6 separate regions of the Homo sapiens genome follow, and all the other regions are reported to be linked to region 5. The links are microRNA targets in miRTarBase. Many come from high-throughput screens and were not tested one by one. Region 5 holds a microRNA gene; each other region holds the end of a gene's coding sequence.

Region 1 (3,105 bases), not on the chromosome of region 5:
TTTTTTTCGAGATGGAGTTTCACTCTTGTTGCCCAGGCTGGAGTGCAATGGCGCCATCTCGGCTCACTGCAACCTCCGCCTCCCGGGTTCAAGTGATTCTTCTGTCTCAGCCTCCCGAGTAGCTGGGATTACAGGCATGTGCCACCACGCCCAGCTTATTTCATATTTTTAGTAGATACGGGGTTTCTCCATGTTGGTCAGGCTGGTCTCAAACTCCCGACCTCAGGTGATCTACCCGCCTCGGCCTCCCAAAGTGCTGGGATTACAGGCGTAAGCCACTGTGCCCAGCCTCAGGTGTTCTTTTAGCACTGTACCTTTACACTTGGTTCCCTCTGCTTGGTGTATTTTCTCTACTTTCCCTTGTCTTAAAAGATCCAGCTCATCAACCTCTTCCCTATGCTCCTAATGTTACCCTTACAAAGGATGCCTTGTGTTGGTATGGCAAGCCCTCAGCACATGGCAGCTGAATGAAAGGCTGACCCAGAGGAGGTCAGGTTTACTCACCTTGTCCCACACGACCAGTGACTGAGGATGACAGGGACACAGGCCTCAGGAGACCCTGGGAACTGTAGTGAGCAGTAGGTGGGGCTGGAGGACCCTTGGCTGATAGGAGAGTTCCCTGTGCCCCACATAAGCGATTTGGGGATAAATTCTTTCAATGAAGTAGGAAGGACATGGAGGTAGAAGGAAGGAAGCCTAGGCTACGGCAGTCACCTCCTTTATAGAGAACTCTTAAGCATCAGTCTCCTCTGGGGTAGGAGGGAGCCTGGCATTTTGCACTTGTTTGGGTTGTTGGGGAGGTTGGCTGGGAGGGGAAGTCCTCATGCTTTAGCACTGGAAAAGGCAGAAGGAGCTGAACTGGGGATTCAGTTCTGCAGTCACCGTCCAACCTGTAGCCTTCTGCTAGACCCCCACTGCCCATCTCCCTTGGGACCTACAGACACCCCACATCACAGGATTCAAGTTTGGGTTGTCCTGACCAAAATTTCCTTCCCAGCCCCCAGTAAGTACAACCTCCTGGCAGTTTAGGGTGAAAGGCAGCCCAATGACAACTGGCTTGGCTGGGCGCTACTAGGTTCTTTTCTCTTCAGCTCTCAACATAGGGAAAAAGGGAAATATGTGCCAGGGCCCAAGGGCCCAGAATGTTGCCCAAGACAATCTTCCTTGAGTTTTTGTGGGCGTGGTGTTATTTCTGCAGAGCTCAGAGGAAGTCAAATTCTTCACTTTCTGCTCAAAGCCACAGGCTCTCCAGAATTTTAACACAAGTAAGAAGAAAGAAACTCTCAACCATACAAGGGGTATATCAAGACATCATTAAAGTGGCTGGGTGCAGTGGGTCACGCCTGTAATCCCTGCACTTTGGGAGGCTGAAAGTGGGTCACGCCTGTAATCCCTGCATTTTGGGAGGCTGAAGCGGGTGGATCACCAAGTCAAGAGATCAAGACCATCCTGGCCAACATGGTGAAACCCCATCTCTACTAAAAATACAAAAATTAGCTGGGTGTGGTGGCACATGTCTGTAGTCACAGCCACCCGGGAGGCTGAGGCAGGAGAATCGCTTGAACCAGAGAGTTGGAGGTTGCAGAGCCAAGATCGCGCCACTGCACTCCAGCCTGGTGACAGGAGCGAGACTCGGTCACAAGAAAAAAAAAAAAAAACATCATTAAAGTAGCCATGGCATTTTGAGGCACCTCAAATAAAGAGAGTCCTGGGTGGATTTAAGCGAACAGTTTGTTATAATGAACCAGAAATACAAGATTCCACTGAAACTGAACAGTTGACAGAATATGGTTGAACTTAAACCTTCAAGGGAAACAAGGGCAAAACAAAGCTAATGAGTGGAAAAGTCCAAGATTAGTTTGGGATAAACATGAGGATATAATTGCATTTTAGCATGGCTATCTTCTGACCTCTTCCAGCAGTTCGTCTGCCATCATTCTCCCTTCTGACACACCTACCAAATCAAATGGCTTCTGATCCTCTATATTGCAGTATAAACCAACCCTATAGTACCCCTCTGGTCATGATACAAACCCAGAAGGAAAGTCTGTAAATCTCATACAAAGGTAGAAAGTGCAATTCAACCCAACACGCTGGTTATGGTATATGTGCTGTCAATGTACATGGTAGCAACTTGAATCAAACCAGAGCTGCTACCACATGTAAGCAACCTCTTATGCTGCCCTGTAGTGATGTCAATGTTCTCAGTTTACTAAATTATCAATGTGGAAGAACGCATTTTTGAGCTCCAGACCTTCTAAACATTTTAAACAGGCTATCGAAGAGGATGTAACAGAACCCTATTTCAGAAACCTAAGGATCAGGGAGGAAGGAACACTGACCGGTTTTTCTGGGATGTTTCTGTGGGGGCAACAGGGATGAACAAAAGAAATGTTAGCATGTCAGAGCATATGACAAGTGAGGGGAGACAGAGGTAGGAAGAGGGTGTTCTAGCCACAAGGCTAATGCATTTGTGTTCAAAGAGAAGTCTGGGCAAAGGAGGGGAAACCCCCCCTCCCCCCTAAAAAAACAAAAACAAAAAACCAAATCAAAGGACAAAAGGGTTTCATACAACACAGTATCAAAAAGTAAAAGGAACACACTAAATGCACAAGCTGGTGGCAAGTAAGTCCACAGCCTATTGTGATAGGTCCATCCAGCATCAATCAGATTTCTTCTCATCTGTTATCTCAAGGTTATTTACAGATGTGTTGACTAACAAGAGTCTCTCATGGGAGGATGGGCAGGCTTCAATCATTGGTTTCGGGATCTGTCTGCGCCATGTAGGCATCCAACTCAGCATCCAGGTGTCCTTTTGTTTTCGACATATATGCATCCAATTGGTTGTCCAGCTGCTCCTTGGTCAATACAGGGCGAGCAAGGGCACCTCTCCCTCGTCCACGGCCTCGGCCTCGGCCTCCAAAGCCCCCTCTTCCCCGACCTATCATACCCCGACCTGGCCCAAAGGGGAAAAAAAAAAAAAAAGAGACAGTTACAAGTAAGTTTAATAGGTGCTGTAGTAAATGCCCCTTAGAGCAGTGGGGCCTAGCTGAGAAAAGCTGAAGGGCAGGGCAAAGAGGAGAAATCTGGAAAAAAAGGAAACAC
Region 2 (3,104 bases), not on the chromosome of region 5:
GGAATAAAGTTAGTGAGAAAAGAGGGTGGTCTGGATGACAGTGTTTTCATTGCAGTTAAAGAAATTGGTCGTGATCTGTACAGGGGCTTGCCTACAGAGGAAAGGATCCAGAAACTAGAGTTCATGTTGGATAAGCTACAGAATGAAATTGATCAGGAGTTGGAACACAATAATTCCCTTGTTAGAGAAGAAAAAGAGACAACTGATACAAGGAAAAAATCACTTCTTTCTGCTGCCTTAGCTAAATCAGGTGAAAGGCTACAAGCTCTAACACTTCTTATGATTCACTACAGAGCAGGCATTGAAGATATAGAAACTTTAGAAAGTCTGTCTTTAGACCAGCACTCCAAAAAAATAAGCAAGTACACAGATGATACAGAAGAAGACCTTGATAATGAAATAAGCCAACTAATAGACTCTCAGCCATTCAGCAGCATATCAGATGACTTATTTGGCCCATCCGAGTCTGTGTAGCAGACAGGTCTATTTAAGCTTTCAAATGAACAGGGTAAAGTTGCATCTAAAGTACCACAGATACAACCATGTTTAAATCCTCGTATGCACTCTGGCCTGCTTCTCCAGTTACTTGCTTGTGTAAGAACAAAAATGAGAAAGGTTGTTTTCCAGTAAAAACATGACCAGCTTACTAATTGGTTGTTTTGGATTGCATTTATAGCTATGCTTTTTTGGGTTTATACTGGGAATTTATTTTTACTAAATTATTTAACTTTTCTAATTATGTAATTATGTAAGCTAGCTTTTCATGTTTATGTATGTATGGTGTCCCCTTGTGTTATTTTTCTTCCTCTTGGTTTTTGAATTAGTGTTAAATAGAATACTGTCTAGATTCTTAAAATATTTTCATTTCCATCATGGTTATAACAAATTTGCTGCATGCCCAAACTGACAACAGCAATCACTGAGGGAACAGGTTTTGAATCTTTCTTTTGTGTTATGAAGTTTATCGTCTCTACTTGCTTGAGATTTTTGTTATTTTGGGGGTTTGGGGGTGCTTTTTGTTTTGTTTTTGCCAAATGTAACATGAAAGCAGATGCTGCAGCTTTAGTCTGTTATGCTGATTTAGTAAAAAAAAATTTTTTACATATATTGCTTGCTTTCGATGCTTCTGTGAAATTTTTTTCTAAAGCTTTTGTGCAGCTGTATGGTAAAAATATGGTGATTAATTTGAAGAGCTTACATTGAAAGACAATGTAATAGGAAATAAATGTAGATTGCAGTTGGTCAAGAATTTTGTAGAGAGGATAACAAGACTTAATTACTGAAAAACAGTAACATAGCATTTTGAAATATAATCTTTTAAAATATTGATGCTTTCCTTTTAAATGGAAATTTAAATTTTATAATTAAAAGTTTAAACATTTATGATAATTTTCCTCATCAGTTCTCCCATAGGAAATAAAGCATGTGAAAGGGTATTTAAAGTTTTGGAGGACTCTTTTTAAAATGACTGTGTTGATAACTAGTTTGGGCTGGTTTTGTTTTAGAAAAAACATTTTCATGTAGGAGTATTCTGTGAAGGAAAGGAATCATGCAAAATATACTTTTTGCTTTGGCGTCTTACAGTTGTAAAGGAATGGTGATCATTCTGAATACTTCTGTAGTGAGTATTCATTAAGAAAAGAATGACAAAAATAGTATTCATACATAGGAATTGGGACCAGTTCTCTGAAAATGAAGATATACTCACACTGGGTCCATTTTACGGGTCCCAGTAACATTTGACTGAGGGAAAACAAGTAAGCTCGACTGTTGTTGGGGTACCTTAATGGTTTCGGTCTGTTATATACCTATAAAATAGACAAGTATATGTTTGTCCCTTTGTAGGTAACTGCTATGATGATTGCTATATAGTGAAACTGACATGAGTTTAAAACTAGATGGAGCAGCTTTTATTGCTGGCAGGAAAAAGCATGGTGTAATATTAAGGACTGGGGCCCAGGTCTAGACTCCAGGACTCCATAAAAGAGTTTAAGTTCAAGCCCTTCCATTAATGAACTGTGTAAGCATAGGCAGTTACAAAAGGACCCATCTCTAAAATGGGAATAATAATACTTTACCTCCCTCACAGTATTGTTGTGAGGGAAACAATAGCATAACTGCAAAAGTGCTTTGAACAGTAAAAAGATATACAAGTAAAAGGCATTATTTATATGAGTAAGAAAGACATTTTTGAGGGGAGAAAAGTTATTCCACTTTAAAAATCAATAGCCAAGTCTCATGCCTTTTGTTACTTTAGTAAGCGAAAATTTCAGGTACTAAATACCTTTCTTAGCCAAGTTTATAACAAAAACATCTCAGTATACTTCATTACTTATTTAAGCGTGATGTCTTTTTTTTTTTTTTTTTTTTTTTTTTTTTTTTTTTTTTTTGAGACAGAGTCTCGCTGTCTCCCAGGCTGGAGTGCAGTGGCATGATCTCGGCTCACTGCAAGCTCCGCCTCCCAGGTTCACGCCATTCTCCTGCCTCAGCCTCCGGAGTAGCTGGGAGTACAGGCGCGGCTAATTTTTTGTATTTTTAGTAGAGACGGGGTTTCACCATGTTAGCCAGGATGGTCTCGATCTCCTGACCTCGTGATCCACCTGCCTCGGCCTCCCAAAGTGCTGGGATTACAGGCGTGAGCCACCACGCCCGGCCACGTGATCTTATTTTAAAAGAACACTGCTATAGAAGAATTTACACACCAAATTCCCTGAAAGCTAAAGTATTGTTCCATAACTTACACTTGAGGCAATCTGCTCAGTGTGTAACCACTTTATAAAAAATAACTTACCATTGATAACCTGGAAGGTGGACTACTTGTAAGTAGCTGGTGTTTATTGATTAAACCATGGAAGTTTTCATGATACCCAAGCATGTTGCTGAAACTGATGCATTTGAAAGAGCTGTTGAAATAATGCAAAACTTTGGTTTTATAAGAATCTACTCATGTTTTAAAAGTATTTAACTCTGTAGACCACAATTATAGAAAGCTCAGTAATGCTGCTAATGACATTTGTAAACTATATCTGTAATGTAGTGCAATATTTTTATATTTCACTGGGAGAGGCAGTAGAGACATCATAGTTGTACTTTAGTGCAAGTGG
Region 3 (3,105 bases), not on the chromosome of region 5:
TCTAAGTAAGAAAGAAGCCTGTTAGGATAATGGAAGCAAATTGAATTAAGAGCTGGGTAGAATGACAGAATGCGAGGTCAGGTTGGCATCTTAGAAACCATCTGAACCACTCTCTTTGCTTAAAGGTGAAGGAACGGTCATGTGTGGCAATAGAAAAAAAAAAAACAAAACAAGAAAAGATGTCCCTTTAATTTTACTTTTGTCAAAACATTTTCAAGATTACTTTAATTTTTACAATATCATTTAAGGGAAAACTAGTGAGTTTGTTGAAGAAAACAAGAAACAGATTTTTTTAAAGCCATTGACCACGAAATAAGCATTATGTTTCAAAGACCATGAAAAAGTTATTTGTCTCTTTTTGGTCTCAACTAGCGAGGGAGGTGAGACCAAACTGCTCAACCGCTGGACAATCTCAGCAAACACACCCACTGTTGAGACTTATTGAGTGACTCAATGTTGGCTAGAATTGTCCATTTAGCTGGAGGGGAAGAGGGAGGGAAGGATGGATGGAGGAGTGAAGTATGGAAGCAGGGATCAGGCCACTTCCCGTACCTCTCCCAAACTCCAAAGGCAATGATCACATTGGAGGGTCAGCTAAACACAAAGGGAAGTGAAGAAAGAAGTTTGAAGATTTTCCTGTTTCCAAAAATCACATACTTTCCTCTTTTGAGTATTCTATAGAATAACTCTCTACATTTCCTAGTTTGTGGAAATTTTCTCTACGGCATAACTACTCTAAATTGTGCAATTTTCCTCATATCAGACTTATTTTTCTCTATACCTGGTTCCCTAGCAAACCTGAGCTTTATTTATATATCTGATATGCACCCCATCTCCACAGCTGGCATTCAATTGCAACTCTAAATTCTAAAGTGCTCAGAGTCAATATAATGCACTGACGATTCAGACCTGACTGGGCATTTTCACTGCATAAATCTAAAAAGTAAACAATCTCATTATGTTTGAGAGGATGGATGGGGAGAAAACTGATCTATATTTCCACTAAGGTAGCCAAGAAATATTCACATGAAGGGACAATGGGAGAGGAGCTGGCAAGAGTTTGGGCAGTACTTAGAAGGAAGATGCATTCCTTATCATATAGATTACATATGGCAGTGAATTGACAGAGGATTCACTGGGACATCTTCAGAAAGTAAGTAATGTGTTTCAACACCACTAAAGTGTTAAAATAGGCTTCTTTTCTTCTCGCCAGTATGAAAAGTTAGACAGGAGTCACTCCCAAGAATAGTAAAGGACACTCACTGGGGACAGTCATGATGGGTGAAGAAGGGATACATATTTTTAAGGCAGCAGGAATAAATTTCATCATCCTTCCCAGAAGACAGCAAGAATTATTCAAGGTGGCCACCAAGTCTGGAAACCAGGCAAATCTTTTAACAAATGGTTTATTGATATGTTATAATGAATGACAAAATATTAGTATCTAATTCTAGACTTTATGGCCACCCCATAGGATGAATCTTTGGAACAGAAAAAAAAAATAAAGAATTTGTTTTCTCATAATCATAAAGCTGTTATACTCAGTCCAGGCACAGCTAGTACAACATTCTGCTCAACCCCACAGGCTCCATTCCCTTTACCACATATTTATAATATGTTTGGGTCACTCATAGGAGTGAAACACTGTCAGCATCAATAGTTAGCAGCACTTTCAAAATACATTTTATTGTCCCGAATAGAAACCTTAACTATTCAATTAGTCCAGTAATTCCAAATGGTCTTATTACTTCTATACATAAGATATGATCTTACAACATTTATGTAGCTAAATACTTAACTTCCCATGCTTTTTGAGGATTCCCAAAAGACTTTAGGGGGTTCCCAAGACTTTCAGGGTTTTTTTTTTTTTTCACAATAAAAGAAAGGAACAGTGTCAATCCATAAAGTCAGACCAGCAGTTTAATAAGATCCTCTTCATAGCTCAGTTCTCAGTGCATACAGAGATTCAATATAGCCCCATCGCTCTCAGTTATTAGAATCTGAGAGGGATAAAAGCAATAACTATTGTTTAAAAGCCTAAGAGTGAAAACAGATGTCCAAAAAAAAAAAGAAAAAAAAAAGCCAAATTCTTTCATCCCAGGATGTCTGAAAAGGAGAGACTCTATGGAGCGTGGATGTAGAAAAGGAGTTATTCCTACCGGAAAAAAATGAACTGTGGACACAGTCACTCAAGACCAGAGAAACAACCACTATGAGTAAGTAGCTTCAATTTCACTGTTACCAGGAGGGCACACACCAGAAAGCCTGGGACAAAGCCTGGGCTAGAGCCCTCAGGATTCATTCTCAGGCTTCCTGGTGCTGTGGTTCAACAGCCTTTGTGGGGATGGGGAGAACCAGAGACTATCACCATCACATGTCAAAAATATTACCACAGCAACAGCTGTCAAAAACCAGCTGGAGCTGAAGTTACACACCATTTGAAATCCACACTGTACTTGCTTTCTTGTGATGGGCTTGAGACATGTGCAGAGACACCTTAAACATGTGTAGGTGACCAGCCTTTTGAAAGGCAGAGGAGGGCCTCTTCATGAACTCTTTCTACTCATTTGTTTTCCTATCAGTTCACCATTTCAACTAGAAAAGATGCTGCAAGCTACCTCAGCTAGCTTCTAATTTGGACACAGCACCAATACTACACACACTATTGAATGAATGACCACATCTTCCTGGTTCTTCCATTGGGCAGGGTCAATATGCTTCTTTGGACTGAATAGGTGTGATCTTGTTTGAGAAAAGTGTGTAAACGTAGGGCCAGATTTTGTTCGTCTCCGTTCCGGAAAATTGGTGGAGCACTCCTCGGCTCCTGAAAAACAAAGCCCAACATACAATGGCTTTTTAGGTTTCTTTTCCACGTATTAGTGCAGAAGATCCTAGATATAAAACAAGCATGATCTCATGGTCTATATCATATACCACACTAAGTGCTAAAACAGCCCCTTTCAAAGGTATCAACACCTCCACTGGGTGTACATAAATAAGGTCATAGCTTTTGCAATTCTGGTATGCTTGTCATGATGCCACCTTTTTTCTCCCCCTTTAAAACATATCAAAGAATAGCATTATAGGGGCCATTCCAAATGTGCC
Region 4 (3,089 bases), not on the chromosome of region 5:
CAGCAGCAGCCCCCAGGGGGCCAGGCCAAGGCCCGGCCTGCCAAGAGGAAGGCGGGCACGTCCCCAAGACCCTCCACAGATGTGTGTCCAGACCCTCTGGGCATCTCAGATTCCTACAGTCCCCCTCTGCCCGGCCCCTCAGGCTCCCCAACCACGGCAGTGGCCACTGTGTCCATCTGGAGCCCAGCCTCAGAGTCCCCTTTGCCTGAGGCGCAGCGGGCTGGGCTGGTGGCCTCAGGGCCGTCTCTGACCTCCGCCCCCTATGCCATGACCTACGCCCCGGCCTCCGCTTTCTGCTCTTCCCCCTCCGCCTATGGGTCTCCGAGCTCCTATTTCAGCGGCCTAGACCCCTACCTTTCTCCCATGGTGCCCCAGCTAGGGGGCCCGGCTCTTAGCCCCCTCTCTGGCCCCTCCGTGGGACCTTCCCTGGCCCAGTCCCCCACCTCCCTATCAGGCCAGAGCTATGGCGCCTACAGCCCCGTGGATAGCTTGGAATTCAAGGACCCCACGGGCACCTGGAAATTCACCTACAATCCCATGGACCCTCTGGACTACAAGGATCAGAGTGCCTGGAAGTTTCAGATCTTGTAGAGGACGCAGTCTCCATCTCTCTCCATCGGGCCTCGGGACCCTTTCTCTTCTGAATCTGCTTCCCTGCAGTTTAGATCCCGGGATGGCATTCCTGAGAAAGCAACCCGAACCAGCTGTCCTTCTGACAGCTCGGTGTTCAGCTTACAGAGACCACCCCTTTCCTCCACAGGGAGAGGCTCCTCCCTCTCCTGGGACAGCTCACAGGTCCTAGTGATTCTCTCAACCCTAACACCGTCTGGCACGATTGTGACCGCTGAAGTACACCACGAGCTCCAGGCTTCAGAAAGTGGTGCTGAGAACTTGCTCCAAGAAGAAGTCAAACCAAACTTGCAGTTGATTTGGGGTCATGTTTAGGTCAGAATCACCGTGCCCTTGAACAAGCAGGTAGGGGGGCTTGATAACTTAACTTTCCACGTGGACAGAATTTTTTTTTTTGTTTTGTTTTTGTTTTGCAGACACAGTCTAGCTCTGTCGCCCAGGCTGGAGTGCAGTGGCACGATCTCAGCTCACTGCAAGCTCTACCTCCCGGGTTCACGCCATTCTCCTGCCTCAGCCTCCCGAGTAGCTGGGACTACAGATGCCCACCACCAGGCCCGGCTAATTTTTTTTGTATTTTTAGTAGAGACGGGGTTTCACCGTGTTAGCCAGGATGGTCTCGATCTCCTGACCTCGTGATCCGCCCGCCTCGGCCTCCCAAAGTGCTAGGATTACAGGCGTGAGCCACCGCGCCCGGCCCTTTTTTTTTTTTTTTTTTTTAATTGAGACGGAGTCTCACTCTTTTGCTTAGGCTGGAGTGCAGTGGTGTGATCTCAGCTCACTGACTGCAACCTCCACCTCCCGGGTTGAAGCGTTGCTCCTGCCTCAATCTCCCAATTAGCTGGGATTACAGGTGTGCTCCATCATGCCCGGCTAATTTTTCTATTATTAGTAGAGACAGGGTTTTACCATGTTGGCCAGGCTGGTCTGGAACCCCTGACCTCAAGTGATCCGCCTGCCTCGGCCTCCCAAAGTGCTGGGATTACAGGCATGAGCCATTGTGCCTGGCCCTACACGTGGACACTTCTTTAGCATATGGTTAGGGACCTTTCTAGAAATTCCAAAGACAGACTTTAAGAAGCCCCGTCGGGAAACCTTAGGCCAATGATGTGGTTACATTAAAAATAAATTATCTGGGAATTTCACAGACTTCACAAATGTCAGGCTTACATGGTAGGTTTAGGGGACCGTTTGAGAGACAAAGATCTACATTCATATATGTAGCTATACATATATGTACTTTTTCTTCTTAGTTTCTTTTTAAAGACATTTTATCACTCATTCGCTCATTAGCACATTGGGAATGTGTGTATTTGGTAGGGAAATGAAAGGCACCTTGCCTGTTCCATCTCTACTCCTTTTTTCTTTTGTTTTAGGATTTTCTAAAGGTGAGACACTGGTGGAACTGGGGTAGCTGCTTGGGACGTACCACCTATAGTTGTGGCTATTTCACAGAGAAGCAGCAGCTAGACAGACTCCCATCTGTAAATAAACAAGAGATAGGAAGAGGGGGAAATAGATTTGGAGGAGGCAGCCCTACATTTCAAACATACATTCCCTTTTTTAGATTTTTTTTTTTTTTTTTTTGGTTTTCAGTTTTGATGGTGGGATTGGAAAATAGAGCTTGGCTTGAGGACATTTTCCTGGGGTGGCACCATTATTTCTTGAAATAGAATCTTACTTATGGTGACACTGGCAAGCACTTGTGAGAACCTGAAGACGGATTGAGGTCATTTGATGCTCAGAAGTTGGGTGCTGGGTCCCTGCCTTCTCAGTCCGAGTTCTCCTTTCATTTTTGGGTGGGGAGGCGGGTTCCAAGAGCCCTTCATTGGTGGAGTTCACAAGGCAAGGTGTAAAAAAAAAAGTAGGGCAGGAAGACAGTGGTGTGCTGGCAGAGGTCTAACAATGGGCTCTCCAAGGAAGAGGAAAAGGTTGGTTGTGGAGTGTTTGTCAGTTTCCGTGGTGTAAATACTCCCACCACGGCTGACTTCAAGCTAGCAACCGGAGGTCACTGAACTAAGAGTTGGGAAGAGATAGGGCACAATATATGCTTACGAGTTGGTACACACCGTCAGCAGCAGCCAGGGTCAGGAGAAAGGCGAGATGTGAAGAGAGGCCGGGAGGTATCAGATGACGTTTCCAGCACTAGACCAGAAGAGGTGCACACAGCCTAGACCCCCTGAGGGGTACACCCTGATCTCTAGAGCCCACAAAGAGGTTTTTATTCAACATAAAACGTGTTCATCTCTCATAGGCCTGAGTCATGCTGGGTTCTGGGACATTAAGCCCAGGAGTGGGCCGGGTGCGGTGGCTCACGCCTGTAATCCCAGCACTTTGGGAGGCCGAGGCGGGTGGATCACCTGAGGTCAGGAGTTCGAGACCAGCCTGGCCAACATGGTGAAACCCTGTCTCTACTAATAATACAAAAATTAGCCGGGCATGGTGGCACGCGCCTGTAATCC
Region 5 (3,105 bases):
CAAGAGTAGTACTTGACAGGATCTTTTTAAAATTAATGTTGAATGCAGGTGCCTGAGGAAAAGTAAATTTAAGTATTGAAGTGGAAGATACAGAACTTCTGTCAAAATGCTGAAAGGACCTGGTTACAAATGGAGGCTTAAAATGTTTATATTACTGATTGTTAATTATGTCTAATTTACTTAGAAAGTTAAGTCTCATCTGGGCATGGTGACTCTTATTCATAATCCCACCATTTTAGGAGGCTGAGGCAGAAGGATCACTTGAGCTCAGGAGTTTTAGATCAGCCTGGGCAAAATGGTGAAACCCTGTCTTTACAAACATTAAAAAAAGAAAAAAAATCAGTCAGGAGTAGTGATGTGTGCCTGTAGTCCCAGCAACATGGGAGGCTGTGTTGGGAGGATCACTTGAGCTTAGGAGGCCAAGGCTGGGCTGCAGTGAGCCACGATTGTGCCACTGCACTGTAGCCTGGGCAACAGAGTGAGACCCTGTCTTCAAAACTAAACAAAACAAAGACAAAGAAAGAACTATTGTTCCTAAAACTAGCCTGAAGCTTGTCGTCTATTATTGAGTTCTTATTTTAATCAAATAAAATTAGTACATGCCATTTTTTCTTAGTAATCTCCTCACAGCACTAGGAAAACTTCACTCTTTCAGACATCTCAAATATTTCTGACATTTTCCTTTTCTAAAACAAAACATGTTTATTACAAAACATACCATAACATAGACAGTCATATCTATAAAATGATGGAATTCTGCCATTAATGGATACTATTATATCTATCTTACTATTATGCCTCAAGCCATGCCAAGATGAAACATTTAGTATCTTTTTTTTCTTGATCTCAAACTCAGGGTGCTTCAGGTAAGGGGTAAATACTTTTCTATGTGACTGTAACCTAAACTTCCACAAGTCATCAAAACTACGTAAAAACGAATTCACATGTGTGGTAATAACATTACTACATCACATTTTTTACTGGCTCTTGTTTTCAGAAGCTTGCAGAGACTCTGTACTTTTGCAAATGTCCTCCCTGTTGTTGTTGTTGTTGTCATTGTTGTTGTTGTGGTTGTGGTTTTTAACTCAGGAGACTTTTTGCATGTGCTCACAAATAAGTTCAAGAAACTACTACCTCAGCCATTATGCGTTTGATCTACACTTTAGCTTCTGGGCAGTACTTTCTCTCCTGGGCTCTGCTATTGCCTCTACTGGAAAGCACCATATTATTAAGGCAAAAGTTTAGTTTTATGAAGGTGTCACTGCTTCTTCCAGACACAGGCGCCATTTGCATTAGGGATCATCTTGTGTATAAGTTATTAGGGATTGTCTTGTGTATAAGTTATCTTATCACTCTGGCTGCTCCTGACAATGTTGAATTTTACCAGAAACCTGTACTCCTGGAAAACAGCAAAGGTTAAAAAATCCCCCCAGTCTTGTGTCTTCCAGGAAATGGTTCACTGCAAAGAACCACACTTCTTCCTACGACTTATATAAGATTTATGGGTGCCTTCCTTATTTACCCATGACAAAGCTGGACACAGATCTTCTGAATTCCTATTCTTTGAGTCATATAAAATTAGTTGATGAGCAGTCAGGCACCCATCTTTGGTTGATGAACTTAGATTCCTATGTCTTAATCTCGATCAAAAAGTGTTCTTTAGGGAAGAATTTTGAGATATTTGGAACCGAATTCAATGTTTTACAAACGTACCTCTTATGTTTTTATAGCATCTATTGATATGCTATTCTAAGATGAGGACAAACACACCAATATAATTTAGTAAATAGTAGTTGATAAAAGTTCTATATCCACACAGCTATTTTAAGTGAGTCAGTTGCATCCTAAAGGAAAGAGAAAAAAATATTTAGAGCAAAAAGAAAGACAGATCTTTCTTTTTTTTTTCTGTCATAGCTATACGTTCTCTGGCTGACATACACTCATAATTCAGTATGTACTTATTGAATAAAGTCAGGAAGTTGTTGTGTAATGTAATGATATAATATGCTTCAGAGAATGAAAACAAACCAATTCTATATTACAAATCTGAAAATGGACAACCACTGGCAATAGACTTTCTATGTCATAAAAGTAAAGAAAAATATAGTTGGGTCTATTGTAGATTAATAGAGATTTAAGAACCAACACAACCAAATACAATGTGTGATTCTTGATTGACTCCAGGTGTGAGCAAATCAGCTATAAATACACTTTTAGAATATCTGAATATGCTCAAATATAGAATTTGTGGGTATTTTGTAATATTATGTGATTTGTCTCAATTATTTTAGCTGTAATAATAGCACTGCAGCAAAATTTGAGAATATTAATTTTTGGAGATATATGCTTGAAGTATTTAGAATGAAGTACCAATGTATCTATAATTTACTTTAAAAAGAACATATACCTAGTGATGCAAATATAGAAAAATAGAAACAGCTTTTGCATATAGACTTGGGTATAGAGTGTATTACACTCTGTATTTTTCCAAATGTGTAATAGAATGTCCATGCCTATCGTAAAAAAGATAGAATAGAAGGAAAATAAAATATTTGAATAAATAAGATAAAAATAATAAAGTATCTATATACCTACCACTTGCTCATTTCAAAAAGGAAAGACACTTAAAAAGTTTCCTTAACACACGTGAAGCTTCTGAGAGTAAGGGAGACAACAACGCCTCCTCTAGACAAAAATGTCAGAAGGAGAGCTCTGCAAATGCCTCCCTAGCCAAAGTAAGGTGAATGGTGTAGTTAGCCAAGGAGCAAGATCGGCATGTTCTCAAGGGCTAGCATCCTATTTTCCCTGAAATCTGTACCAAAATATCTTTAGTCCTTTAAAAAATACCAAAATTAGTTTTAATAAAAAATCCATGAGTTACTTAATATTATTCTATTGGTAAATATTTTTATAAACTTACAATAATTTCATAATAAAATTTTATGGTATAGATGTGTGCATGTGAGTGTGCGTGTGTATGTGAGTGTGTGTGTGTGTGTGTGTAAGTGATTGTTTCCTTAGGATAATTTCCTACTAGTAAAATTGCTGCACAAAAGGTCTGAACATTTTTGCATTTCTTAATTAAGGTTACAAAACAACTTTCTA
Region 6 (3,105 bases), not on the chromosome of region 5:
GGCTGAGACAGTGGCCCTGCCTGGCACCATGGACAGCAATCAGGGAAGGGTGAAAGGGCAAGAGTGGGACAGGCCAGGACTCCAGGTGTACACTCTACCCCGAGCCGACCACTTCAGGAGGAATTCCTGGGGAAATGCAAAATCATTTCCAAATCTTTTCCTTCCCCACCTTCCAGTCAAGCCATGAATCTCCATTTAAAGCAGCCACTCACTCCTTAGTTCTTTTAAACATTTATTTATCTACTGTACAAAATATTTACATCATCAGCTGCAACTGCCTGGCCCTTTCACCTGGCCTGACGAATCTGCAGCAGGGCTTGGTCTCTGCCAATTTTCCAGAAACATGCTGACACTCTCCTAGGTATTCACTCATGTCTGGTCTCCTTCAAAGACGCTAAAAGGCCAGAAGGGTAGCTGGCCCCCCAAGTACCTGGGTCACAAGGACATAAATAAAAGAACTGGCCAAAATAAGAAACACTAATAGAAAATTGCCCAAGAAATAACACTCTCTCATCTCTTTGACATATTGTACCTTTTCCCCACACTGGCTAGTATGAAAGCAGGATTAGAAAAAAAAAAAACAAAACAGTAAAAGAAAAGGCCCAAGAGAGCAAAGATACTTTTGAATAGAGTTCAGACAGAGAATAGAAAACCACAATAGTGCCAAAGGGTTTTGTTTAACAAAGACTGGTGCCTAAGGACCACCACAGGGATGCAGCTTCCCTGGTTGGGTTGCAATGGTGCCTAAGATGCTCTGAAAAAGTGCTATGACTAGAGCTTAAAATGACAGGTCTAGCCAAGACAATCAACTCAATCTCCAGGATCAGTCTCTGGAAGGCTGCCGGAGGGGAGAATTCAGAAAAGCGACTGCCAAAAACAGCAGAACCAGTCCACGTGCCCCCAGCTGGAAACCCCTTTCTGGGCCCAAGGGGCAGCATTATGTTTCCCAGGGTGGTGATAAACCTTCCGGTACATATCCCATGGGAAAACATTTGGGCAAGCAGCAGCACCTTGTCCTGGTCCCTGAGGAGAGCAGTGACCATGTGGCATGGAGGATCCTGGGGTATAGAGACCCTGATGCTGGATCCCGGACCCCAAGGATGAGTGAGGTCAGCACCCATGTGCCAAGAAAGGACAAATGATGACTGCGAAAGACTGAGGTCAGGCAGGAACTGTAGCAGCTCAGGAGGGCTTGTTCCTCATGATCCCTGCGAACAGGAGGGCTCAGACATGCTTCCAGGAGGCCAAGGCATTGCCAAAGTCCTGCCTTGTTTCAGGACTCTGTGTACTTGCTGGTTTTGGCAATAAAGATGGCTTGTAATATTCTCAGAGTTGACTGCCCCATTGGGAATGGTAGCTTGCAGCAAAGCCTTCTTAAAAACACAAATTTGGGAAGTCAATGAGATTTTGAATCTTGAAATTATTTTCAATCAAACAGTAATGAAAAAGGATGTTGTCATCTTCCAAGATACAGCAGCAGGTACTCTTCAATCATCATTCAACAGTGAACCTAATAAGCTTCCTCCCTCCTTAGTTCTCCTTCCTGATAACTGATGGAGCAAAGGGGAGTACAGGGGTTGGCAGGTGTTTACTGTGTAACATATCACCTCCATGTTCATCCCTAGTGTCCTGACGCCAAGGACCTGTGATAAGCACGTAAACTCCTAGTCCCTGTTCCTTTGTCTTAGTGCTGCCAGAGAACACCAAGCAGAGAGAGAATCAGGGATTGCTGGCATACTATTCTTACTGTTCTAATCTTTTGCTACAAAATTTTCTTCAGTAGAATGCTAAAGGATCCCCAGCTTTTAGCAGACTACATAATGGGGAAGTCAGTGGCCCAAGCCGGCCATACTTCAGTGCCAATAACAAACTCAGGGAAAAGCATCAGTAGTCTCCAAGCCAGCCATATGCCTAGGCATGCCCCACTCTGGAGGCTACAGCTCAGCTATCCTTCATATTCTTCAGTCTATCTGCTTTTCTCACTGGCTACAATTCAAGAAAAAGCTTACAGAGTTCTTCTTTGTGGATTAATAATCATTTCCAGAAATGCCCGAAGGGAAAGTGCTTTTTCCAGTTCTGACACCACAAAAAAATATTCTTTTTAGCAGTCCTTAGAGGCAGTCCAGTGCCATGGCCTATGCCTACCATTGTGCAGCGGGACTGCTCCTATGGGCCACCTCCTATCTGTCCCCCTCTCTCCTGGCTCCTGATGAGAAGAGGCAATCACCCCACCCATGAGAAGGACTCAAGTACCAGTCTGGTCAAGTAGTGAGGGCCAAAGAGGGTGTCTCCAAGGAGTATCAGCAGAGGGAGTTTTGGAGCACAGTGTGGATTTAAGGGTCTCCACACCAGTTTCCCAACAGGGCTGAGCCCCGTGTGCCATCTCCCTCAGCTACTGAGATCTTCAAAGGACCAAATAAATGATAGCAGCATGGTCCTCTTCTCATGACAGAATGAAGAGCTCAGCTTACATACCATGCCAAAGTGGCCTGTGGTAGATATGGGCAGGGAGCAGGTGAGGTAAAGACAAGGCTTGTAGGTGACAAAATCCTCCAGACACAGGGGAGCATGCGGCATCTTCTGGCTGATGGTTATGTGTGTTAGGATCAGTGGTTATGATGTCTGTAACTTGCGCCCAGAAGCTCCAGAGAGCATGGGAGCCAACTGGATGACAGGAGAGTGGTCAGAGCATGCCAAAGCCCTCGCAACCCTCGCTGATGGCCAGCTGCAGCATCCTGTGCACCTCTTCATAGGAGTCATATGTAGGGAGGCACAGCTGGTTAAAACTGGAAGGGCAAGGGAGAAGTGATTAACTCATACCACCAAAAACACTGGGCATGCATCAGGCGGGCAGATACCTACCATGTGTGTGCAGTAGGCAGCGTGCTATGGGTCGGAGCGGCAATAATCTGAAATGAGGGACAGAGGGCGGCAAAGCCTCCAGGTGGTAGCTGAGAGGAGCCTGTTGTGAACTGAAGTAGCCGAGCCAACTCCTCCTGGGTCAGACTGGAAACCACAGTCCAAAACCACCTCATGACCTGGCAGGGAGAGCACAAGGCTGGGATCACACACAGTAAACAAGCTAGGATTAGATCCCTGGGGAAG

The links. Region 5 holds the annotated microRNA hsa-miR-4500 (UGAGGUAGUAGUUUCUU, at 1,122-1,138, opposite strand). A microRNA usually pairs through its seed, bases 2 to 8, with sites in the 3' UTR of a target mRNA and lowers its output. Matches are read on the target gene's strand: a 7mer-m8 pairs with bases 2 to 8, a 7mer-A1 pairs with bases 2 to 7 and ends in A, and an 8mer does both.
Region 1: the mRNA of CHTOP is a reported target of hsa-miR-4500. Seed matches in the 3' UTR shown: 7mer-m8 at 2,432-2,438.
Region 2: miRTarBase lists PDZD8 as a target of hsa-miR-4500. The part of its 3' UTR that is shown has no 7-base or 8-base seed match.
Region 3: the mRNA of AK4 is a reported target of hsa-miR-4500. The part of its 3' UTR that is shown has no 7-base or 8-base seed match.
Region 4: miRTarBase lists CRX as a target of hsa-miR-4500. Seed matches in the 3' UTR shown: 7mer-m8 at 1,110-1,116.
Region 6: the mRNA of AREL1 is a reported target of hsa-miR-4500. Seed matches in the 3' UTR shown: 7mer-A1 at 2,517-2,523.

What each region holds. Positions count from the first base shown.
Region 1 is chr1:153,644,915-153,648,019 of GRCh38, reverse strand. It overlaps CHTOP (chromatin target of PRMT1), which reads right to left. Exons shown (of 6, transcript NM_015607.4): 6 at 1,714-2,956. The coding sequence ends at 2,751. Among named protein-coding and RNA genes, the nearest start is that of SNAPIN, 12 kb to the left of the region's middle.
Region 2 is chr10:117,280,638-117,283,741 of GRCh38, reverse strand. It overlaps PDZD8 (PDZ domain containing 8), which reads left to right. Exons shown (of 5, transcript NM_173791.5): 5 at 1-3,104. The coding sequence ends at 474. Among named protein-coding and RNA genes, the nearest start is that of SLC18A2-AS1, 40 kb to the right of the region's middle.
Region 3 is chr1:65,225,782-65,228,886 of GRCh38, reverse strand. It overlaps AK4 (adenylate kinase 4), which reads right to left. Exons shown (of 5, transcript NM_013410.4): 5 at 1-2,824. The coding sequence ends at 2,710. Among named protein-coding and RNA genes, the nearest start is that of AK4, 79 kb to the right of the region's middle.
Region 4 is chr19:47,839,377-47,842,465 of GRCh38, forward strand. CRX (cone-rod homeobox) reads left to right here. Exons shown (of 4, transcript NM_000554.6): 4 at 1-3,089. The coding sequence ends at 591. Among named protein-coding and RNA genes, the nearest start is that of TPRX2, 18 kb to the right of the region's middle. RefSeq lists an enhancer at 179-704.
Region 5 is chr13:87,617,550-87,620,654 of GRCh38, forward strand. It overlaps MIR4500 (microRNA 4500), which reads right to left and starts at 1,191; the gene lies at 1,116-1,191. The region is part of intron 1 of LOC124900338 (formin-like protein 5); the gene reads right to left. All of the region lies in intron 1 of MIR4500HG (MIR4500 host gene), which reads right to left.
Region 6 is chr14:74,661,037-74,664,141 of GRCh38, forward strand. AREL1 (apoptosis resistant E3 ubiquitin protein ligase 1) reads right to left here. Exons shown (of 20, transcript NM_001039479.2): 19 at 2,863-3,038; 20 at 220-2,786. The coding sequence ends at 2,684. Among named protein-coding and RNA genes, the nearest start is that of LTBP2, 50 kb to the left of the region's middle.